Homo sapiens: one gene and its partners. The protein of the gene in region 2 interacts with the protein of the main gene of each other region in a pairwise test. Each region holds a gene or a part of one and is shown on either strand. Other genes may lie near its edges.

The links.
Region 1: the proteins of SFT2D1 (region 2) and PLEKHB2 interact in binary tests that used the Homo sapiens proteins (3 or more experiments, as listed by UniProt).
Region 3: the proteins of SFT2D1 (region 2) and TARS2 interact in binary tests that used the Homo sapiens proteins (3 or more experiments, as listed by UniProt).
Region 4: the proteins of SFT2D1 (region 2) and MST1 interact in binary tests that used the Homo sapiens proteins (3 or more experiments, as listed by UniProt).

What each region holds. Positions count from the first base shown.
Region 1 is NC_000002.12:131,129,330-131,136,366, reverse strand, and holds part of PLEKHB2 (pleckstrin homology domain-containing family B member 2), read right to left. Parts: intron 5,647-7,037; coding exon 5,607-5,646; intron 3,466-5,606; coding exon 3,376-3,465; coding exon of another isoform or gene 3,352-3,375; intron 1-3,351. UniProt on the Homo sapiens protein: Involved in retrograde transport of recycling endosomes.
Region 2 is NC_000006.12:166,319,221-166,325,575, forward strand, and holds the end of SFT2D1 (vesicle transport protein SFT2A), read right to left. Parts: intron 5,376-6,355; coding exon 5,317-5,375; intron 3,667-5,316; coding exon 3,637-3,666; intron 1,037-3,636; coding exon 997-1,036; 3' UTR 508-996; downstream 1-507. UniProt on the Homo sapiens protein: May be involved in fusion of retrograde transport vesicles derived from an endocytic compartment with the Golgi complex.
Region 3 is NC_000001.11:150,482,537-150,490,444, reverse strand, and holds the start of TARS2 (threonine--tRNA ligase, mitochondrial), read right to left. Parts: upstream 3,027-7,908; 5' UTR 2,995-3,026; coding exon 2,929-2,994; intron 2,588-2,928; coding exon 2,391-2,587; intron 1,482-2,390; coding exon 1,358-1,481; intron 1-1,357. UniProt on the Homo sapiens protein: Catalyzes the attachment of threonine to tRNA(Thr) in a two-step reaction: threonine is first activated by ATP to form Thr-AMP and then transferred to the acceptor end of tRNA(Thr). Also edits incorrectly charged tRNA(Thr) via its editing domain.
Region 4 is NC_000003.12:49,683,438-49,686,502, forward strand, and holds the end of MST1 (hepatocyte growth factor-like protein isoform 1 precursor), read right to left. Parts: intron 3,045-3,065; coding exon 2,876-3,044; coding exon of another isoform or gene 2,871-2,875; intron 2,756-2,870; coding exon 2,625-2,755; intron 2,526-2,624; coding exon 2,423-2,525; intron 2,296-2,422; coding exon 2,159-2,295; intron 2,070-2,158; coding exon 2,034-2,069; intron 1,946-2,033; coding exon 1,825-1,945; coding exon of another isoform or gene 1,785-1,824; intron 1,653-1,784; coding exon 1,575-1,652; intron 1,519-1,574; exon of another isoform or gene 1,448-1,518; coding exon 1,301-1,447; intron 1,220-1,300; coding exon 1,113-1,219; intron 1,017-1,112; coding exon 877-1,016; intron 753-876; coding exon 591-752; 3' UTR 510-590; downstream 1-509.

The DNA of each region.
Region 1 (7,037 bases), on a different chromosome or scaffold from region 2:
AGCCATGGTGGCTCAGGAGGCTGAGGCAAGAGGATTGCCTCAGCCCAGGAATTCCAGGCTGAAGTGAGCTAATGATAGTACCACTGCACTCCATCCTGGGCAAGAGAGTGAGACCTCATCTCTCAGGGGGTCAGGGGAGAGAGGAGAGGAGAGGAGGAGAGGGGACGGGCGGGGGAAAGGAGAGAGGGAGGGAGGGAGGGAGGGAGGAGGCAGGAAGACAGGCAGGCAAGCAACTGACAACCAGTCATGATAAACACTCCTGGAAACTAGAAAAAGGGAATTTCTAAACCTGATAAAGAATAAATATAAAAAACCTCCAGCTAACAGCATACTTAATGAATGCATTAAATACTAAATATATGCATATGTAAAACTAAATACTGAATTCAGTACTAATTAAATACTGAATTAAACAGTACATTCATAATAAATGAATGCATACTTAAAACTGAATACACTGGCCGGGCGCGGTGGCTCACGCCTGTATTCCTAGCACTCTGGTAGGCCAAGGTGGGTGGATCACAAGGTCAGGAGATCGAGACCATCCTGGCTAACATGGTGAAACCCCGTCTCTACTAAAAATAAAAAAAATAAAAAAATTAGCCGGGCATGGTGGCAGGTGCCTGTAGTCACAACTACTAGAGAGGCTGAGGCAGAATGGTGTGAACCCGGGAGGCGGAGCTTGCAGTGAGCCGAGATCTCGCCACTGCACTCCAGAGCCTGGGTGACAGAGCGAGACTCCATCTCAAAAAAAAACACTGAATACATCCCCCCTAAAATCAGGAACAAGGCAAGGATGTCTTCTCTCACTACTGCTATTCTACATAATATTTGAAGGTCTAACCAAGGCAACAAGGCAAGGTAAGGAAACAGAAGGCATAAAGGTTACAAAGAAAACAGATTCCTATTTGTAGATGACATGATTGCCTATGTAGTATATCCCAAAGAATCTACAGAAAAAGGAAATAGAGTAAGTGAGCTTAGAAAGTTTACAGGCGCCGACCAGGCACCATGGCTCATGCCTGTAATCCCAGCACTTTGAAGGCCAAGGCAGGTGGATCACCTGTGGTCAGGAGTTTGAAACTAGCCTGGCCATCATGGTGAAACCCCATCTCTACTAAAAATACAAAAAATTAGTGTGGTGGCACGTGCCTGTAATCCCGGCTACTCAGGAGGCTGAGGCAGGAGAATCGCTTGAACCCAGGAGGCGGAGGGTGCAGTCAGCCAAGATCGCGCCACTGCACTCCAGCCTGGGCAATAAGAGAGACACTCTGTCTCAAAAAAAAAAGAGAAAGTTTACAAGCTGCAAGATCAACCTACAAAAATCAATTCTATTTCTCTATACTGGCAGTAAACAAAGGAAACTAAAACTAAAAATGTAATACCATATGCAATCACTAAAAAAACTGAAACACTTATAAATCTAACAAAACATGTATGGGATTTTTATACTGAAAACCTCAAAATGCTGATGAAAAAAATCAAAGAGGATCTAAATACACATGCAGTCCATGTTTATAACTGGAAGATTCAACATTCAATAAAGATGTCATTACTCTCCAAATAAATATGACACAGGTTTAAGGCAATTCCTGCAAAAGCCTTGCAAGATTTCATTGTAGATATAAACAAATTTATTCTAATGTATATGGAAAGCTAATGGAACCAGAATAGCTAAAACATTTCCAAAAAGGAACAAAGAGGGTGTTGATCAGTCCACCCAGTTCCAAGACTTTTTATAATAGCTGCAATAATTAAGACTGTGTGGGATCAAAGGAAGGTAACAATACAGAACAATGGAGCAGACCACAGACCTCAGAAAGAGATACACTCAACAGAGCCCTGAAAAAGACATCTATCTTATAAAAAATTAATTCAAAATTAATACAGAATAATTATAAAACCTCACTATAAAACTTTCAGAAAATAATGTAGGAGAAAATCTTAGGAAACTTGGGCTAGGTTTGTCATGTTAAGTTTTAACCTGACAGCAAAAGCACAACCGAGAAAAGGAAAAGCCAATAAATCAGCTCATGCCTGTAATCCTAGCTCTTTGGGAAGCTGAGGCAGGAGAACCGCTTGAACCCGGGAGGTGGAGGTTGTGGTGAGCCGAGATCGTGCCACTGCACTCCAGTATAGGCAACAAAAGCGAAACTCCATCTCAAAAGGGCCGGGTGCAGTGGCTGACACCTGTAATCCCAGCACTTTGGGAGGCCGAGGTGGGCGGATCATGAGGTCAGGAGATTGAGACCATCCTGGCTAACACAGTGAAACCCCGTCTCTACTAAAAATACAAAAAATTAGCCGGGCGTGGTGGCGGGCGCCTGTAGTCCCAGCTACTCGGGAGGCTGAGGCAGGAGAATGCCGAGAACCCAGGAGGCGGAGCTTTTAGTGAGCCGAGATCGAGCCACTGCACTCCAGCCTGGGCGATAGAGCAAGACTCCATCCCAAAAAAAAAAAAAAAACCACTCAGCAATAAAAAGGATTATTGACAAAGAGCAACTTGGACAGATCTCAAGGGCAAATACTGAGTGAAAAACGTTAAACTCCCAAGACCACGTGCTATATGATTTCATTTATATGACATTGTTGAAATGATAAAACTATAGAGCTGGAGAACAGTTCAGTGATTGACAGGGTTTAGGGAAGCAGAGGGATGGCATGACTATTAAAGGGTGTCACAGCAGGAAGATTTTGTGAAGAATTCTTTATCTTGATTGAGGTGGTAGCTACACAATCTACACGTATGAGAAAATGACACAGGATTACTCTTAAATACCACACCAATTCCAAATTCCTGGGTTTAATTTGATCGAATATTAACAAATGGGGAAAACACATAAAAAGCACATGAGACTCTCAAAGCTATCTTTGCAACTTCTTGTGAATCTATAATTATTTCAAAATTCAATTTTTTTAAAAGCTGCGTGTTCCACACAACAGACTTACATACGTTCCACTAGCTCAGTCAGCACCCCAACAAGAGGACATCCCAATGTATTTGACATGATTTTTTAAGGTTATTTTCCCTAAAATATAGCATTTTTTTCTGACTATAAGGAGAATTCAAATAATTCATTCCATATAAACTACAGATCATCAAAATCTCATTACCCAAGGCAACTATCATTAACATGATGCATTTTTAGATCTATCTTAAAAACGTGTTACACATTAATACAGCACATTATAATGTGCTGAACTATATAAAATAGTTGCTTCATTTCATGAAAACAAACGTTGATAAGAAATCATCTGTTTTAAGAAGAAAAGGTTTAGAGTACATTTCTAATTTCATTTAAAAAAACAAAACAAAGCAGGACAGCAGCAGAGACCCCAAACTTCCCTCACCTGGAGGCTCAGGGTTCTCCCTACCTCAGGGGCCGGTGCAGCATAGGCCGTGTATGGTGGAGGTGAGGAAACCACGGATGTCTCATCGGTCATGACTGCAGAGCCCACATACGCCTGCGGGAGACAGGAGAGGGTGAGGACAGGACAGCTTCCCAGCAGCTGTGTGCTCGATGCTGTGCATTGTCCCTTTTATTTAGCAAATTAAAAATTTAAAAAAACAAAAAGATACATAGCTCTCTGCAAAACAGGAAAAACTCCCCCAGTCCAGTGGGGGCCCCCACCCCTATTCTGGTATCCTCTAAATGCAAGAGCAAAGTGGTCCTCACTCGGCCCCTAACAGGACTACAGCTCTCACAGCCAGGAAGGCACTCAGAGGCCCCACTGTTACCCAATGCCTTTTAAAAGATGTTACATCAGGCCAGGTGCAATGGCTCACACCTATAATCCCAACACTTTGGGGAGGCTGGGTGAGAGGATCACTAGAGCCCAGGAGTTCCAAGGCCAGCCTAGGCAACAGAGGGAGAGCTCATCTCTACAAAAAACAAGAAATTAACTGGGCATGGTGCTTATGGCCCCAGCTACTCAGAAGGCTAAGTCTCAAGGATCACTCGAGCCCAGGAGCTCGAGACTGCAGTGAGCCAAGATCAAGTCACTGCACTCCAGCCCAGGCAACAAGGCGAGACTGTCTCCAAAAAAATAAAGATGTTACAGCACTCTCAACAGTCCTTTATTCACAAATAAAAACTCTACAATCTAAAATGTATCAAGAGATATGTCCTATACATAAGTCTGTTTTTTACCTTAAAAAACAAAATTCTTCATTAAATTACTCCCCAGTATAATTTAAAGAAAAACATGTTAGCTCTTTAAAAAAAAAGAAAAAGTGGCCAGGCGCAATGGCTCATGCCTTTAATCACAGCATTTTGGGAGGCCAAGGCAGGCAGATCACTAGGTCAGGAGTTGAGACCAGCCTGACCAACATGATGAAACCCCATCTCTACTAAAAATACAAAAATTAGCTGGGCGTGGTGGCACGTGCCTGTAATCCCAGCTATTCAGGATTCTGAGGCAGGAGAACTGCTTGAACCCAGGAGGCAGAGGTTGCAGTGAGCCGAGATCGCTCCACTGCACTCTGGCCTGGGCGACAGAGTGAGACTGTCTCAAAAAAAAAAAATCCACACAAAGAATCATTTGGGGAGCTTGCCCTTAACTGTATGGATTGTTAATGCTAATTTTACCCAAAAAAAAAAAAAAAAAGGGGGATTTTCATGAAGAAAAGGTAACTGCGGCTGTAGAGTAAGCTTAGAATGAAGTTGTTGTGTGCTAACAAAGGAAGAGAACACTGACGCTATTAGGATATTAAGCCTTTTACTTTCTTCTCCCACATGCACACATTCTTCTGTAAGCTTGATCCACCTTCTTCTTTTCTTACAGATTAATAAAGGAGAGAAAAATCCCATCTAAAGAATGAAAACTCTGACCAGAGTAACACACTCCCTTGATCACTGACAGATAAAGACAGCATTACGAGGCTCTACAAATGAGGTTCACTGTCTCAGTGACCTCCTAAGGCCAGAAACAGGACGAGAGACAAGTACAAGTCACAAAAATGTTTGTTTCACAGGCTGAGCTCCCATGCGTGAAAAGGATCCTGCAGTTCTTTCTAAGCCTTTACTGCAAACCACAGCACAATTCAAAGTGTTGCAGAACTTTGAGAAATACAAGCATTTCTAGAAAGCAACACTGGAACAAGCATGCCTGTAAGAGCAGGGTGCCTCCTGCCAAACATTTGACAAACCCAGCTTGCTCACTGTTGGCAAAAGGCGCCCTGCCCAGCACTACCTGCCCATTCGTGGCCAGATGGTCAAGAAACCCGTTTTCCCCATTCTCCAATTGTTACACAAGACCATGTGAAAACATTACTGGTGGCCGGGTGTGGTGGCTCATGCCTGTAATCCCAGCACTTTGGGAGGCGAAAGTGGGAGGATCACTTGAGCCCAGAAGTTGGATACCAGCATGGGTAATATAGTGAGACTTCGTCTCTACAAAAAAATTTTTTCAAATAAGCTGGGCGTGGTAGCATGGGCCTATAGTCCCAGCTACTGGGAAGGGGAGGCTGAGGTGGGAGGACTACTTGAGCCCGAGAGGTAGAGGCTGCAGTGAGGTGAGACAGCACCACTGCACTCAAGCCTGAGTGAGAGTGACACCTTGTCAAAAAAAAAAAAAATTATTGGTGATTGCCATTAGCAACTTACTGTGTTTGTCCTAGAATCTTGGAGTGTAAATTTCCAGGCCCTGGAGAAAAGAAAAAGGGTACTTTATTTAAGGCAATCCAACATTGCAATGATTCTGAAACCTGGGCTGGCATCAGAATTCCTGAAAAGATCTGTTTAAAAAACAAGTCTTCAGGCTTTGCCCCAAACCACTTGAGACATGCACTAGGAATATATATTTTTAAAAATTACATACATAATAGATATGTAATATTTAAAACATAATCTATACTATACTTTTTACTTTACTTTTTAATAAATGTGAAATGTACTGCCACTTGCTTTGTCAGTTCATGGCATACACACAGATCTACTTCCTTTTTACCAGCTATATAATATTCCACGATATGAGTAAAAAATTTAGATTAGCAATTTTTCAACATTAAAAAGAATGCTGGGGACCGGATGTAGTGCCTCATACCTGTAATCCCAGCACTATGGGAGGCCAAGGCAGGGGGATCACTTGAGCCCAGGAGTTCAAGACCAGCCTGGGCAACATAGTGAAATCCTAGCTCTACAAAAAATATAAACATTAGCCGGGCATGGTGGCGCATGCCTGCAGTCCAAGCTACTTGGGAGGCTGAGGTGGGAGAATAGCTTGCGCCTGGGAGGTCGAGGCTGTAGTGAGCCAAGATCACACCACTGCACTCTAGCCTGGATGAGAGAGAGGGGCTCTATCTCAAGAAAAAAAAAAGAAGAAAAGAATGCTATTAACATCCCTATTACCCTTACACTCTTATGTAAACATCTCCACAGGGCAAATTCCAAAGACTGAAAATACCACATCAAAGGATAAAAACATAATTTATTTCAGCAGGTATTGCCAAAATGCCCTGCAAAACGATTCTAACAATCTCTATACCTACCAACTTTACACTATATTGTCAAAAAAAACTAGATATCTGAACCTTAAGTATCACAAGAGCTTTCTTAATTCATAGGCAAAAAGCAGTCTCTCACGCCTGTAATCCCAGCACTTCGGGAGGTCAAGGTAGGTGATCACCTGAGGTCAGGAGTTCGAGACCAGCCTGGCCAACATGGTAAAACCAAGCTTCTACTAAAAACACAAAATTAGCTGGGCGTGGTGGCACATGCCTGTAATTTCAGCTACTCCAGAGGCTGAGGCAGGAGAAGTGCTTGAACCCGGGAGGCAGAGGTTGCAATGAGCGGAGATTATACCATTGCACTCTAGCCTGGGCAACAAGAGCGAAACTCCATCTCAAAAAACAAAATAGTGTTCTCTTGTGCACTCCCTCACTCCTTTACCCCTTACTTTTCTTACTGACCCTATCCCTCTTATCTTCATCAATTCCTTTTATGTTTTATTCTCATTTTACTATCTCCCTGAGTTGAAAGATTCATTCACTTATTTTCAAGTGTTCTGGCTTTCTTTTTTTTTTTTTTTTTTTTTTT
Region 2 (6,355 bases):
AAGCTGACTGTGCATAAAATGCTGCTCCCATTACCCTGTTGTATGCTCTTTATTAACTCTCCCTACCCTGGACAGACATAGAGCCGCCTTCCCTCCTGCTGGCACCACATCATGCTGGCACCCGCCTATCTGCCTCTCCCTGGCAACTGAGGAGACCAGGACAGCCAGTGGGAGACTTGCAGGGAGGAGGAGGGCGCTGGCTAGTTCTCCGCCCTCTCTGCTTCTCCTCCAGCCTGGGGTGAAGGTAGCTTCCTGCTGCCACTACTGTCCAGTGGCCTGACTTCTCCTGACACCCTCACAGTCAATGCCGCCTCACCTCCTCCCCCTGCACTTCCTGGAATGGGCTCTGCTGTCAGTCCCATTATCTCTCACAATTTGTATTTAACAGTATTATTTAGGGGAGAGACTGTATCTTCCTCATTTTTCTACAGAGAGACTGTATAGTGCCTAAACTAAATATTATTGAATTGAGTCACTTAAAATATTATAAATTTGATTCAGAAAATGTTATTTTTCCAAGGATGGGTTTATTTCAAAATTGTAAAGATTTATATATTATTTTTATTACATATAATAAGCAATTTTTAGCTTAAAATAAGTTTCACATTTAAAGTAAAAAAAATCTTAAAAATGCAGACATTTTTTAAAAGCAAAAAAGTTTAATTATCTTGCAGCACAGGTCTACCTTTAAATATTCACATTTCAAAGCTGCTTTGAAAAGATTTAAAAATTGGCTAAAAATAATTTACAACTGGCAGTGATTAAAAATCTTATCTTTGGAAAAGTATATTAATGACACATAATGAATTTAAAGTTACAAGCATTTAATGGTTTAATCAAGCATGTAGTTTTTACCAGTATACAAAATGAGACTTAGTACAAAACGGTCTTCAACTGTCACGTCAGTTGTTCCTGGAGTGTTTTATGGGGAAAAGCAAACTTCACCAAACATAGAGTACCAACATTCAAGTGCTCTTTTCCACAAGTTTCTGATTTTCAACTTAGGAGAGAAGAACAGCATTTAATAACTGCATCCCTGGTGGAAAAGAGAGGGAAAAAAACAGAATATAATATTCCTCAAAAGCAAAGTTGCGCAAAATGTTCCTGCTAAATCACCTTTTTTAACAGAACTCAATGGATGCTCCAACACACTTTTTGATTAATAAAAACTTTGTTCAGTATCATTTAAGATTAAGAGCTAAGATTTGAAAACATTTTGCTGATTTTTGACATGGTATTTATCTTAAGAAATTTTTACTGGCATATACACTGATCTCAATCAAAGAAATAAGTTTAAATACCAAAAATAACCTAACAAAAGATCTAACTTTTTTCTTTTTTTTTCCTTTTGAGACAGGTTCTCACTCTGTCTTCCAGGATAAGTGCAGTGGCGTGAGCAGATCCTCCCACCTCAGCCTCCCAAGGAGCTGGGACTATAGGGCACACCACTACACTAATTTTTTTTTTTTTTTTTTTAATAGAGATAGGGTCTTGCTATGATGCCCAAGCTGGTCTCAAACTCCTGCGCTCAAGCCATCCACCCGTCTCAGCCTCCCAAAATGCTGGGATTACAGGGATGAGCCACCAAGCCCAGCCCAAAGATTTAATTTTTAAAAAGAACTAGGCCAGGCAAGGTGGCTCACGCCTGTAAGGCAGGTGGATCACTTGAGGTCAGGAGTTCAAGACCAGCCTGGCCAACATGGTGAAACCCCATCTCTACTAAAAAACACAAAAATTAGCTGGGCGTGGCAGCGGCAGCACGTGCCTGTAATCCCAGCTACTCAGGAGGCTGAGCCAGGAGAAACTCTTGAACTTGGGAGGTGGAGGTTGCAGTGAGCAGAGATCACGCCATTGTACTCCAGCCTGGGTGACAAAATGAGACTCCATCTCAAAAAAAAAAAAGAACTAATGAACTGAGTTTCAAAACTGTAATGTTTATAACTGAATCCTCAGAATTAAAAGAAGATTGAAGTGTGACCTTTCATATTTTCTTCCAAAACTGTTATTACTTGATACTTCATTCATTAAAAAAGCTTTTACCTAGGCCATAAAAAATATCCACTAATAAAATTCTTATAGGCAAAATCTGTACATTGCTTATTGCTCTCGAGTGTGGGATCCTGTGTCTGGAGAGGCTGGTCATGTTCTTGAAGTCCTGCCATCTCTTCAGAGCCTCTTGTATGGGACATCACGTCTAGAGGTCCTTTCCTCCGCACCAAGAAGTATTGGAGGTCTCCTTGCTCTAAAGTTCCTATGCATGGTAAATTACCCTTGCACACTCCTGTTAAGCAGCTTTCTCACCTGTAGCTAACTTTGTTTTGCTTTTTCTCCTTGTAAGTATCTATCAGAAAGAATCATACATTTGAAATGGAATAAAAATAAAATTTCTACCAATTTCCTTCACTGTTCGTATTAAAGACAATTTTGCTGTTTTTAAATATATAACATATCTTTGAATTTCACAAACAGGCAAAGCTGTGCCTCACCAGAATCTTTTTCTAAATCTATCAGATTTAAAATTGGAACTAGTTTTGTTTTCTCCTCCACGGCTAAATACATTTCTCTGGAAAAATATTTTAAAATGCCGGTTACCTCTTGACATACAATTAAAATGTTTTTGCTGACCAAAAATAAGCATTTATGTGTAAGCCCTCATTTTCCCAGTAACTTCCTTTTTTATTGAGATGGAGTCTGGCTCTGTCACCAAGGCTGGAGTGCAGTGGCACGATCTTGGCTCACTGCAACCTCTGCCTCCTGGGTTCAAGTGATTCTCCCACCTCAGCCTCCCAAGTAGCTGGGATTACAGGCGCCCACACCACACCCAGCTAATTTTGTATTTTTTAGTAGAAACGAGGTTTTGCCATGTTGGCCAGGCTGGTCTTGAACTCCTGACCTCAAGTGATCTGCCCACCTTGGCCTCCCAAAGTGCTAGGATTACAGGTGTGAGCCACCGCACCCAGCCGTAACTTCCTTTTCTTAAGTAGAATTTGTTTTCCTGGAGTCTCTGTGTCCTATTTTCTGAACTCCTAAAGCCATGGAAGGGTCCAGAATCTCATCCACATTCCCTAGTGCACGCCAGGCAGCAGGGCGGGAGGATACTCCCCACAGAGCTGCTCCATGTCGCCAAAATGTTTCCATACAGACATTATCATGGCAAGCTGCTATTCATCTCATTGAAAACATGTTTACTGCCGGGCGCGGTGGCTCACGGTTGTAATCCCAGCACTTTGGGAGGCTGAGGCGGTAGGATCACAAAGTCAGGAGATTGAGACCATCCTGGCCAACATGGTGAAATCCCGTCTCTACTAAAATACACAAAAAAATTAGCCGGGCATGGCAGTACGCGCCTGTAGTCCCAGCTACTTAGGAGGCTGAGGCAGGGGAATCTTGAACCCAGGAGGCAGAGATTACAGTGAGCCGAGATGGTGCCACTGCACTCCAGCCTGGCGACACAGTGAGACTCTGTCTCAAAAAAAAAAAAAAAAAAAAAAGTATGTTTATTTCCTTTTAGGAAATTAAAATCAACCAAAAAAAAAGGGTTTAAATAGTATTTTTATGTAAAAATTACTTAAATTCATATATTTGTGTGAAGATAAGTAAAGAACCAGAAAGAAGACAAGATTCAAACAAGCTTACCTTGCATATGGGATGTACGACAGGCTATACCTGCAAGAAATATTCAAGCATGTTGAATCTTCATCTGAATGATGGTTTTCCTTTATGCCAAAAGGCCATGTCTAACCTTATAATAAATACAGCAGCATGAGACTGTACAGTGGTTCTCAAAGTGTGACCCCGACCAGCAGTGAGAGCATCATCTGGGAACTTGTTAAAAATGTAAATTATTAGGTCCTACCTTAAACCTCCTAAATCACAAGCTTGCTTTAACAAGCAACCTGCACTTTAAACAAACTCTCTAGGTGATTCTGGTGCATGCTAAAGTTTGAGCTTCTTATAATAAAATAGAAACTGTACCACAACTGATAATTATAGTCTCCTTTAGGGATAAATCAATTATTAGTTACAAATTAGGCAATAAAAGGCAAAATACTAGAGAAAATAACCAAGAGATTAAGTTTCTTCACATATCAGTGAAAAAAAGTAAAGAACATTTTATGGTGAATTTGAGATATACAGAGAATTACATTTAACATTCACTGATGTTTCATCTGTCAGTAGAAAGAAGGCCGAAAGAAAGGTGATCCCAAACTGGGTAATGTCGAGTAAGAGGAATGTAAAATGGCAAAACCAGGAAGCAAAAATTAGGAAGCAAGAGCTGCTCTAAAGGAAAAGGAAAAGTACTCTTCACTAACACAGAAGAGCGCAGGAGCTGCAGGGCACGTTTAATCAACCACCCAGATATTTATGGCCTTTATGCAGATGAACTCTTACTGTGCGAGACACAAAAAGGCTACAAGGAGGACAGTCTGAGCAGAAACCAGGACATGACTGAATCTTCACAAAAGTGGACTGGGAAAGGCAGTGCAGGTGAAGCACCTCTGATCTGAAATGATAGGAACTAGAAATGTGTTGGATACTGGATTTTTCTGGATTTTTGGAATATCTGCATTACATTTACTGGTTGAGTATCAACCAAATCTGAGCATCATGTCAGCGTTCAAGAAGTTTTGGATTTGGGGCTGGGCATGGTGCCTCACATTTGTAATCCCAGCTACTTGGAAGGCTGAGGCACGAGAATCACTTGAACCCGGGAGGCAGAGGTTGCAGTGAGCCAAGATAATGCCACTGCACTCCAGCCTGGGTGACAGAGTGAGACTCTGCCTCAAAAAAAAAAAAAAAAAGTTTTGGATCCTGAAGCATTTTGGATTTGGGATGCTCAACCAGTAACTTAAGAAGTATTTAATCACTGCCAATTCAGAAGACATCTCCAGATATCACAGGGCCACAGAGTCAACATCAGGATAAATTCCACGTTGTATTTATCCAGCAATAGAGTGGAGAATGCAGGTAAACTCATCTTCCCTTGGACTCACCCTGTGATTTGGTCTCACTTTTATGTACTCACATGGCATCACCTACTTTTCTTATTATTTCTCTTTCTCACATTAGAAAAAAGCAGAACATATCACTATGTAACTCTACGAGCACAGCACCCCATACTTCTCCCGAACAGTACCACTGAGCCACGCTGTCAAGTGCAACAGGACTCATCGCAGACCTCCCCTCCTCTGACCCTGCAGGGCCTGTCTGGCTCCAAAACACCAGACGAAATGCTAGGGCTTCACAGGTCCCAAACAAAATGCTCGTCACGTCTCAGGCAATTTTAACACTTCACTAGGGTAAGGAAAGACTTACCAGGTCATTGACAAGAACTGCAATATGCAGAATAACACAGCCAGTCCCTTCTTATGCCACTAACAACAGCAAAAACAGAGCAATTATGAGTTTCAAAGTTTTAAAAACATCTTTCTCAATCAAACTTAATTCTTGTCTTTCAAAAATGTAGATGATGGCTTCATTTATCTTTATTAAATTTTAGTGTGATAAATTTAAGATACAGTTGATCTGAAACTTTAAAACCCAAAAAATACATTTCCTTTCTAAAACTATATCCATTAATTTAAATACTGCAAAATATATGACTTTAAATAAACGTTACTGAAACAATTGTGCATAGACTGAAAACATTAGACTTTTAAAGGTGGTTAGGTCTTTAAAGTCAATGTTAACTTATCTAGAATCGACATGTAAAATCCCACTGAGATCTGTATGCCCCATGTGAAATTTACTTATTTTACTCATTCCCATTTGCTCCTTGAGTGATATTTTGAAGGAAAATTGTATTTTATTGTGATCTTCTGGAATAATATAAACAGTTTCCATGGTTGTTTTAAAATATTTTCAGAATTCCTTGTCCATCAGTGCTTTTTTACTTATTTATCTTCAATCTACTGTTTATAAGTAAACAGGCAATTCCAAAACCAAAAATCAAGGTTCTATAGAGAGGTGCAAGTTAAGAATATTCTTTTATCATTAAGAAATGACACGTAAATCAATCTCATATAACTAAAGTCCTGTCCTTACATCATCAAAATAAAAAAAAAACTGGAATATTTCTGATAGCATTCTAAAATATCTACCCTTTCTTCTTTAAAATGGGACTTTTCTTGTTGATAGTTCAAGAACTGCTTCAAACCCATTTGGGAAATAGGTTGAGTACAATAGAAAAATATGATGTAGAATCAGGAGATCAAGAAGTAAACGGAATTGTAACAATGTGACTTCTTTAAAGGCTAATGAACAGCTGTTAACCTTCTCCACAGGGTAGGAGAATGATTTCAGTTCCTCTCTTTGTTGTTACTATCTGTGTTTTCTGGCCCTCTCTATTGGTTTT
Region 3 (7,908 bases), on a different chromosome or scaffold from region 2:
TAAAAAGTAACAAGCTTAAAAAAAAAGGCTGGGCACAGCAGCTCATGCCTGTAACCCCAACACTTCAGGAGGTCAAGGCAGGCGGATCATCTGAGGTCAGGAGTTCGAGGCCAGTCTGGCCAACATGGTGAAACCCTGTCTCTGCTAAAACATACAAAACTAGCCAGGCATGGTGGCGTGTGTCTGTAATCCCAGCTACTCAGGAGGCTGAGGCAGGAGAATCACTTGAACCCGGGAGGTGGAAGTTGCAGTGAACCAAGATCGCGCCACTGCACTCCAGCCTGGGTGACAGAGTGAGACTCCATCTCAAAAAAAAAAAAAAAAAAAAAAGACTGAATAGAAAAGAAAGAAGGCCAGTATTTTTTCTTCTTTCAGTGCATAGAAGCTCCAGCCCCACCCCTCAATCCTTGGTTCTTCCCAGTTCCAAAGCATAGAAGCTGGAGGCCAGTCAGTCTTCTGCTGCTCCTGTAAGCTTTTAGGGCTTCAGAATAATTTTTCTTTTTGAGACGGAGTCTCGCTCTGTCGCCCAGGCTAGAGTGCAATGACGCGATCTCAGCTCACTGCAACCTCCGCCTCCAGGGTTCAAGCAATTCTCCTGCCTCAGCCTCTCAATTAGCTGGGATGACAAGTGCTCACCACCACGCCCAGCTAATTTTTGTATTTTTAGTAGAGACGGGGTTTCTACTATGTTGGCCAGGCTGGTCTTGAACTCTTGACCTCAGATGATCCACCTGCCTCGGCCTCCCAAAGTGCTGGGATTACAGGCGTGAGCTACTGTGCCTGGCCAGAATAAGCTATCTTCTTAACACAGTGGTTACTTAGGTCTCTGTTTGGTCTTTTAGTCCTATTTTTTTCTGTCCCACGAATCTAGTGCGATATATTCCTCTTGGATTTGGTCACTATTTACACATAGATGGCAGGAGAACTCTATTTTTCTGGATCCTAATAGGCAAGGTCTGTGCTACCTGAGCTGACATGAAGAAGACAAGGTGGGGAGGTGACCAGGTTGTTTGCTCAGCTGTATAAGCCATGTTAGAATTGAATATACACTACAGATGACTTATAATGTACGTGCTCAAGAGTTGAGGGGGCTGAATTTACATATTTATCCTTTCGTTTTTTCAACATATCATCTCTCTCCCTCTCACTAGCACAAATGTTTGCTTAATAGATCGAAGCTAAGTTAAAAACTTTCACCATAAGTTTCCTAACCAGAAATAGTCAAGACAGTCTGTGGTAGGTCTCCCTCCCAACTGCAAATGGAGAAACTGCGGCAAAAGAATAAAATGTTAGAATTTCCTGCTTCAATATCTCTTGGTTTAGTAGTCACTGTATTCCTGATAAGAAAGAAACTTACTGCTTTCCCCTCTGGGGAATCGAATGTCAGAAATCTGAGGTCAGAATCTGTCTCCAAGGGCCGCTCCAGATCATAAGGTTCTCCATTCACTTGAGCAGCCACTGCAGTATCTGCCAGTGTTGAACTTCAGCAGTGGAAGGTGGGGATGAAGAAAAAGACAGGGTTACAAGGCACAAAAAGGAAAATATCACATGTTCTGATTCCTATATGAGAGTTTAAAAAGTTGATCTCACAGTGGTAGAGAATAGAGTGATAGTTACCAGAGGCTGGAAAGGATGGGGGAGGGGAGATGAAGAGGTTGGCTAATGGGTACAAAAATAGAGTTAGACAGAAGGAATATGCTCTAATGTTCCATAGCAGAGTTGGGTGAATACAGTTAATAATAATTTATTGTATATTTCAAAATAGCTAGAAGATTTGAAATAGTCCCAACACAAAGAAATGATAAATGTTTGGGGTAACAGATATCCTGAACACCCTGATTTGATCATTACATATTGTATGCATATATCAAAATATCACATATACCCATTCATATGTTCAATTATTATGTATCAATTATTAAAAAGTAAATTAATGATTTAAAACAGACAGGGTTACAATCCACAGTGGGGAGAAAGTTGCTCATCTCTCAGCAACTGTAAACTTGCAAAGGTGAAATGAGTTACCAGAGCAACAGAAGCTTTCATTTCTTTCCCCAATGAAAGGACAGAGACTCTGATGCAGAAACTAATACAGATAAAACAAATCTCAGGCCGGGTTTGGTGGCTCATGCCTGTAATCCCAGCACTTCGGGAGGCTGAGATGGAAGGATCGCTTGAGCCCAGGAGTTCAAGACTAGCCTGGGCAACATGGAGAGACCCCGTCTGTATAAAAGAACAACAACAAAAAACAAAAACAAAATCTTCAGGAAAGGCTATCTTAATGGGGACGGAACAGAAACAAGCAGACCAAGTTTTCTTCCCCTGCTCAAGTGAAGAGAAAGTAAAGGGGCAGAAGGATAATCCTGGTAGTTACAGGATGGGCCTGTTACCTGATCTGCCGGGCTAGTTGGTAGGGGGTTGTGTTCCATGCCACAGCATCAATTTTCTGGCCTCCAGGAAGTGATATCTTAATAGTCCGGGGTTCCTTCTGTGCCATGCTTGCTAATCTCTTTACCTGAGCAGCCCACAGCTCCTCAAAAAGGCCAAGCCGCTCTGCCAACCAGCGTGGAGGGGTCGACACAACTGCCTGGAGGGAAAGATATATTAGCAGGTAACACACGTCCCATCATTCTTTCTTAGAATTGCAGATGATGGCACTTTGGGATGGTTAAGTGGACTTCGTCCGAATTCCTACTTTTTAAGGGGATTGGGTGATACAAGACCCTAGGCTGGGGGTCCTTCGAGCTCAGAGTCCCCCAGACCGCTAACTCGAGAATTAGATAACGAGTTTAGATACGAGTCCTTTTCTGGGGACTCGGAGGACCAGGGAGAGGAGGAGTGGCGTGAGGCTGGGTTAACATAAAAATTTGGGGGCTTCGGCTGGGCTAAGTCTGATGCGGATCGGAGCTTTGGGGGTGCCTCACGCACCGTGTGTAGCCTGCAAGCCTGTAAACCTTGGAGCCGGAGACACCGCCACCTCTGATACAGGGCCATGTTCCTTCACACCAGTGCCTACATCCTCAAACAGATTATCGCCGCTTCTCCTCCACGTAATTCTTCATTGGCTTCTGGTCCAACAAAGTCCGTGTCTATTGGTTACTACAGCTGCCACTCTAGTCTGGCACCACCTCCAGGAACTCCGAAGAGGTACACCCTACACAGCACCAGCAGCGGTGTGAGTGGTTCCGGCTGACCGGAAGACCGAAAATGTAACACACCCTCGCTATTCCCCCAGACCCGTGGCGTTTCAGCTGAAACCCAAAAATAGCAATTAGGCGTCCTGTGGCTTTGAGGACAAGGGCAGGTGAACTTTTGAGGGCGAGAGTGGGAGAAAACCAGACAGGAAATGGTAGTAATTTCCCTTTAACTATACATTTTATTTTACGTGGTCCTTACAGCAAGTAGCAAAACTTAAGAGCATAGACTGGGGAACCAGACAGACCTAGTGTAAATTCTGGATCTGCCATTAACTATGTAATTTTGGGAAAATTATTAAACTTCTCATATTTATTTAATAGAGACCGGGGGGGGCGGGAGGGGGGGGCGGGTCTCACTATGTTGGCCAGGGTAGTCTCGAACTCCTGGCCTCAAGCAATCCCTCCCCTCCCCCCCACCAAACCGCCACCGCGCTCCGGCCTCCCAGAGTTCTGGAATTACAGGCATGAGCCGCCTTGCCTGACCTATTTAATTTCTCTAAGCCTCAATTTTCTCAACTATAAAATGAGAATAGTGTTGCTCCCAATTGTTGAGTTAAATTTTATGTAAATCGTCTAGTGTGGCCCATGGTTTTTTGGTAATGGGCAAAAGCAACAAGAAGCTATTATGATAAATGACTGTAACAGTTTTATTTTTTAATTTTGAGACAAGGTCTCACCGTTGCCCAGGCTGGAGTGCAGGGGTACAATCATGGCTCACTGCAGTCTCGACCTCCTGGGCTCAACTGACCACCTCAGCCTCTGGAGTAACCACTTTAAAGCTGGAGCAAAGATGGCCGCGCGCAGTGGCTCACGCTGTAATCCCAGCACTTTGGGAGGCCGAGGCAGGTGGATCACCTGAGGTCAGGAGTTCTAGACCAGCCTGGCCAACATGGTGAAACCCCGTCTCTACTAAAAATACAAAAATTAGCTGGGCGTGGTGGTGGGCGCCTGTAATCCCAGCTACTTGGGAGGCCGAGGCGGGTGGATCACCTGAGGTCAGGAGTTCTAGACCAGCCTGGCCAACATGGTGAAACCCCGTCTCTACTAAAAATACAAAAATTAGCTGGGCATGGTGGTGGGCGCCTGTAATCCCAGCTACTTGGGAGGCTGAGACAGGAGAATCGCTTGAACCCGGGAGGTGGAGGTTGCAGTGAGCCGAGATCACGCCATGCACTCCAGCCTGGGGGACAAGAGCGAGACTTCATCTCAAAACAAAACAAAAACAAAAAAGCTGGAATCAAGAATCTGCAGAGGTCAGTTTGAGTCCCTTTATACTCATGGTGCTTAATAGGGACTTTATAGACCTTTTAATCTTTTTTTTTTTTTTTTGAGATGGAGTTTCACTCTTGTTGCCCAGGCTGGAGTGCAGTGGCGTGATCTCGGCTTACCGCAACCTCCGCCTCCCCAGGTTCAAGCGCTTCTCCTGCCTCAGCCTCCCGAGTAGCTGGGATTACAGGCATGTGCCACCCCAGGCCCAGCTAATTTTGTATTTTTAGTAGAGACAGGGTTTCTCCATGTTGGTCAGGCTGGTCCCGAACTCCCAGCATCAGGTGATCCGCCTGCCTCAGCCTCCCAAAGTGCTGGGATTACAGGCGTGAGCCACCATGCCCGGCCGAGACCTTTTAATCTGACAGATGAGGAATTTAAGGTCAAACAGCAAGTGCTGATGGTGATTTCTGAATCCAAGCTTGGTTTTCTTTTACCACACCATGCTTTCTCTAGAAGAGTTTGCTCCCAGTATACTCCCCCATCACCTCAGAAAGAGGTGCCTGACTAGAATTTTAGCTCTCTGCTCCCTACATAAGCCCTTTGCCTCTAATTCCTATCCCAGCTCTCAACTTCCTTTATCCTTTCTCTTCCCTCTCCCTGATACATCTAGGACACAGGACTAGGTAAATTTCATCAAATTTACTCAGTAAATATGGGAACATGGTCAGATTTGTAGTAAAGTATGAAGGGAAACTGACTTGGGGGTAGCCATCAGGCTGTCAGTAATTCTCATTAGTCCCCTCACCTGGAGGTGGGGATGGTTAGAGTTGGTTCTGAAGTTTCAATGGTGATAGAATCAAGGGTTGTAGAGGAAGAGGTGTCAGAAAAAGCAGTTTAATCAAGGTTTCCGGAGAGACCAGGTTTCCCGGGCAGGGCAGTTGATCTGAGTCACAGGAGCCTCCATGGATCTTGGGTCCATCTTCTGGTAGACACCCTGAAATACAAAGAGAAAGAGACAAGAGTGTGGGAGAGGAAGATAACTTGTGTGTGTGTGGTTTGGAGAAGGTAGTTAAGAATTTTTAAATGGCATTCAGAAAGGGTGGCAACAGGCAGAATTCTTCTCATGCCTCTGCACCAAAAGGGGAAAGGTGTATTGCAGGCAACAAAATGGTAGGTGCCCAATAATTATTGAATCAAGTATGTACCAATCACGGTATTGATTTGATGCTCTCATTTACTAACTGCTTACTGTGTGCAATGCAGTGAGCTGGGTGCTGAGGGGATGCCGATCAATCAACTACCACATCATCACCTATGTAACTTGTGTTGCAGTGGAGGAAGGAAGGAATGTTGAGTTATTCCATCCGCCCTCTGTAAGAAGCAAGCAAGCAAGTAAGCAAGTGCAAGAGCAAGCTAAGGCCAATTCATGAGTTACTGGTTCTTCTACAACTTCGGACTTGTGACTAGCATATGCCTCAGTATTGGGGAATTTTAATCCATTAGTCAGCCTAGGAAACATCTATTCTTTTTTTTTTTTTTTTTTTTTTTTTTGAGGTGAAGTCTTGCTCTGTTGCCCGGCTGGAGTGCAGTGGCATGATCTTGGCTCACTGCAACCTCCGCCTCCTGGGTTCAAGTGATCCTCCTGCCTCAGCTTCCCCAGTAGCTGGGATTACAGGTGTACGCCACCACACCCAGCTAATTTTTTTTGAGTCAGAGTCTTGCTCTGTCGCCGAGGCTGGAGTGCAGTGGCGCTATCTTGGCTCACTGCAACCTCTGCCTCCCGGGTTCAAGTGATTCTTCTGCCTCAGCCTCCTGAGTAGCTGGGATTACAGGTGCGCGCCACCACGCTCGGCTAATTTTTGTATTTTTAGTAGAGACAGGGTTTCACCATGTCAGGCTGGTCTCGAACTCCTGACCTCGTGATCCGACCACCTTGGCCTCCCAAAGTGCTGAGATTACAGGCGTGAGCCACTGTGCCCGGCCTGTTTTTTGTTTTTTGAGATGGAGTTTCACTCTTGTTGCTCAGGCTGGAGTGCAATGGCACGATCTTGGCTCACTGCAACCTCCGACTCCCAGATTCAATCGATTCTCCTGCCTCAGCCTCCCGAGTAGCTGGGATTACAGGTGCCCGCCACCACACCTGGCTATTTTTTTGTATTTTTAGTAGAGATGGGGTTTCACAATGTTGGCCAGGCTGGTCTTGAACTCCTGACCTCAGGTGATCCACCTGCCTTGGCCTCCCAAAGTGCTGCGTTTACAGGCGTGAGCCACCATGCCTGGCTTGAAACATCTATTCTTAAAACTTGGGCTGTTGCCCCTCCACCCTAGACTACTACTGAACACCCGGTGCTATGCCTTCACTATTTCACCTAATTCCTAAAACAACTATGTCAAGTATACTCCCTTTAAAACAGGAAAATGATTCTCAAAGAAGTAAAGCCCCCAGTCTATCTGAATGCAAAGCCCTTGTTGTTTATGCTATGCCATACTGCCTCTCAGGGACCAGATTGGTCATAATGTGTCAGGTTATAAGATTCTGATACTTGTGGCCAAATAGGCCTTTGATATAGGGTAAAAGAGGTGGGTCCAATAGAAAGCCAAGAAAAGAGGCGTCTTCCGACTTTTCTCTACCAGATTAAGGTTAAGGAAAAAAGTGTGCACAAAATAAAGCTAGATTTCCACAGAAGTGCAGGAAAAAGGGAATCCACAGTGAAGGGTGTCCTAGGCCCTTAGTAAAATTTTAGGAAATTCTCAGCTTAACTCCACTTTTGGAATAGAAATTCCAAGGTGACTAGAGTCCTAGTTCAGAAGGTATTGTTTTTATAGCTTTAAACTACATGTAACTTTAAACTACATGTAAATATTTTCCACTTGTCCTCAGGATCAGCACATACCTCCAAATCTATCTTACTTCTTAGAAGCACTAAAGATGTAGAAAGTATATTTGGCTGGGTGTGGTGGCTCACGCCTGTAATCCCAACACTGGAGGCTGAGGCAGGCGGATTGCTTGAGTCCAGGAGTTCGACAACAGCCTGGACAACATAGTGAGACCCCCATCTCTACAAAAAATAAAAAATTAGCTGGGCATGGTGGTATGTGCCTTGGGAGGCTAAGGTGGGAAGATTGCTTGAGCCCAGGAGATCCAGTGCAGTGAGGCGTGATTGCACCACTGTACTGCAACCTGGGCAACAGAATGATACCCTGTCTCAAAAAAAAAAAAAAAAAAAAAAAAAAAAGAGAAGGCAGAGGCCGGGCACAGTGGCTCATGCCTGTAATCCCAGCACTTTGGGAGGCCGAGGCGGGTGGATCACGAGGTCAGGAGATCGAGACCACCCTGGCTAACATGGTGAAACCCCGTCTCTACTAAAAATACAAAAAATTAGCCGGGCGTGGCAGCGTGCGCCTGTAGTCCCACCTACTCGGGAGCTGAGGCAGGAGAATGGCGTGAACCCGGGAGGCGGAGCTTGCAGTGAGCCGAGATCGCACCACTGCACTCCAGCCT
Region 4 (3,065 bases), on a different chromosome or scaffold from region 2:
CTGGACTCCACGGATGCGTGGGCAGAGGAATGTGGGCTATGTAGTCATAATAAATTAGGACACAGAGCCTGGTTCCTGCTGGTACTTTGTACCAAACCATCCCCAACCCCACCTCCCACTCTGGGGTGCAGAGACCCTAGGTTCTGGGTGTGGCAGCCACAAGGGCTTCATCTGCCTCCAGTGTGAGAAGGGAGGGAACAGTGAGAGGCTTAGCCTCTGCCTGTCCTGGCAACCAGGACTCTGTACCAGCCTAGCTTCCCTGCTGCAGCCCCTTCCATTAGCAACTACTCTGTACCACCCTTCCCAAGAGTATGTCTGGAGGACTAGTGTGAGGCCCTGTCTTTCCACGGCACCCATGGGCAAAAGTAGTCCCAGGGACATTGCCTTGGTTGGGGAAGCCCCTAGGCTGGACAGATCACCTAGCCCAGGGTGTGCTGGGCTCAAGCCACCCGAGCCCTAGCAAGGAGTCACTGACACATTTCCTGGAAGCAAAGGCTAAGAAGCATCTGTACAGGCATAAAGAGGAAACATGGCTTTATGTCTGACAAGAAGTTTTGTCCTCCCCAAGGCATATGGCATCAAGGCTGGGCCTAACCCAGTCTCATGACCTTGTGAATCCAGTCCACAAACACAGAGACACGCGTGAAGACAGCTGGCCAGCGGGACCTTGCGCATACTCGGTTGGGGATTATAATTCCTTCCAGGACCCAGCAGTTGTGGGTAAAGCAGGCAAGTGGGCCCCCGTAGTCACCCTGGCAGGTAGGAGAACTGATGAGGGCCCCGGGCCACAGCAATGACTAGCCTGCTTCATGATAAAATAGTTCATTTCTAGCCCCCCATACCCTTCCAGGGCTGGCCCAGGGCCCTGCCACCAACCTCACAGGCCCCCACAGGGGCCAACAGTCCCTCAGTGCACATCTCACTCTCCCGCACACGTCCTCGGTGCTTGATGTTACACTCCTGGTTGGAGATGACATTCAGCAAGGCCACATTTAGGACTGTGTCATTACCCGTACCTGCAGTGAGGGGAATGGGGAGAGGGAGAGGGTCCTGCAGGAAGATCCAGGGCTGGGCCTCCTGGCCACCAGCAGTCCTGTGCACTGTGCTCTTACCTTTGGTCTCACCCCAGCCTGCAATCTCACACTTGGTCCCTGGAGGCACCACATACCATTCAGGGGGCAGGCAGATCAGGGCCACACGCTGGTTCAGGGTCACAGATCTTTAGCAAGAATGGGGGCACTCAGGGTCTGAGGCCACAAGGCCCAGCCCCACCTCACACCCTCCCAGGTTGTCCACATACCTCTCCAGCTTGAGCAGGACAAGCTGGGAGCCTGAGGGCCCACACACCATCTTGGCTACTGGGACCCGCTGTAGGCTTGGCTCTCCATGCTGTGGGTTCTGGAACAGGGTGCCCAACCATACCTCATAGCCCGTGAGAGGCATATGGCTGGGAGAGAAGCTCTGCTAGGTCATTTGTGACTCTCAGTCCATTGCCCCAAGGCTCACTTGTTAGCTTGCCTGGGGAAGGGGGAAGGTGGGATGAGACTGGGTCCCCAAACACAAGGGAGGCTCACCAGGAGGAGAAGCACTGCCGGGCAGTCAGTATCCACTGCTCCTTCACTAGAGACCCCCCGCAGAAATGCTGGCCCTGCCTAGAGGAGTGGGGAATTAGGACAGGTAACAGACTCCTGGGACAGATGCTAGACCTGCCATCTTCTGGCTAGGACCTCTGGGGGCAGGGATAGATTCCCAGCCCCCAGTGGGATAACCACAGAGGACACAACCTCAGCTCCTCTCTGTGGGAGACAGGCAGTTGTGCCTCACCGATTCCGCAAGCTGACTGTCCAGGGTGAGTTGCCCGGATGGCCCCCAACCACGCGCAGCTTGGAACGCCGCTGATCCAGCCGATCCACCCTCTTGCCACACTTCTCAAACTGCACCTGGTCTGTAGGATGGGGTGGGCTGGATGAAACCCAGACTGTGTGGATGTCGTGGGCTAAAGGGCCTGACCCATAACTGGCCCAACTCCTAACCTGGGGGGTCCAGGATTGATGGCGGCTGGTCATCAGCTGAAAGACAAAGTTCACTGGGGTTAAGGGAGCCAGCCTTTGGGTGGGGGCTGAGGCAGGGTCATGGGGGAAGCGTCACTAGTGCTCACCGCAGCGTCGCAGGGCACAGTAGTCGAATGGGGTCCTTGGGTCCATCGTGTAGCACCAGGGCCCATGGCTATCCCCATCTGGGTTCCGGCAGAAGTTCTCCTCCAGTTGTGCATGCGGTTCGGAGGTAAACGTGAACCTAGGCGGAAGCGGGAGCAAAATCGTGGCAGGGTAGTCTCAACCATTTCCAGGCTCTGGTCCCAGACACCAAAGCATGCCGCCCCAGGGTTAGGGCCCTGGCGGGGCCGGGAGCACCAGGGACTCACTGCGGCTTGTGCGGCGTCTCAGCGGACCAGCGCTGGCACTGGACACCCTTGCGGGTCTTGCTGACCGTGCCGCGGTACTGCTCCCCTGCGCCGTGGTAGCAGTCTGTGGCGGGTGCGGGCAGCCATCAGGCCGAGACCTCGCCCCGGCCCTCCGGTTCCAGGCTTCCAGCCCGGCTCTGTAGCCCCCAAGCTTGGGCCTCACCCTGGGGCCGCACGTCGTCTGTACAACGCCGGATCTGGTAGCAAAAGGCCGCGCGCATGCCGGGCCGCAGTGTGAAGCACCAGGGCGCCTCTGAGCCGTCGGGGTTCCGGCAGAAGTTCTCCCGAAGGTCTCTAAGCAGGCGCTCCACTCAGCCCTAGCCCGCCAGCCTCCAGCCTTGAGCCCGTGACTACCTTCCTCCCGTCTCACCCGCAGCAGCACGTCCCAACGCCCGCCCCCCCCCCCCACCTCACTTGCACGCGTATTTTTCTGGCGTAAATCGGTGCTGATGCGGGATTTGCGCGTCCCAACGCTGGCAAGGTACGCCCGCAGTGGTGGTATTGGCTGTGCCCCGGTAGCCCTCACCCTTCCCGCGGAAGCAGCTGACAGTTGTGGCCTCTTGGCGGGGCTGTGCCTCGGACCCTTAGATGGACCGAGATAGGT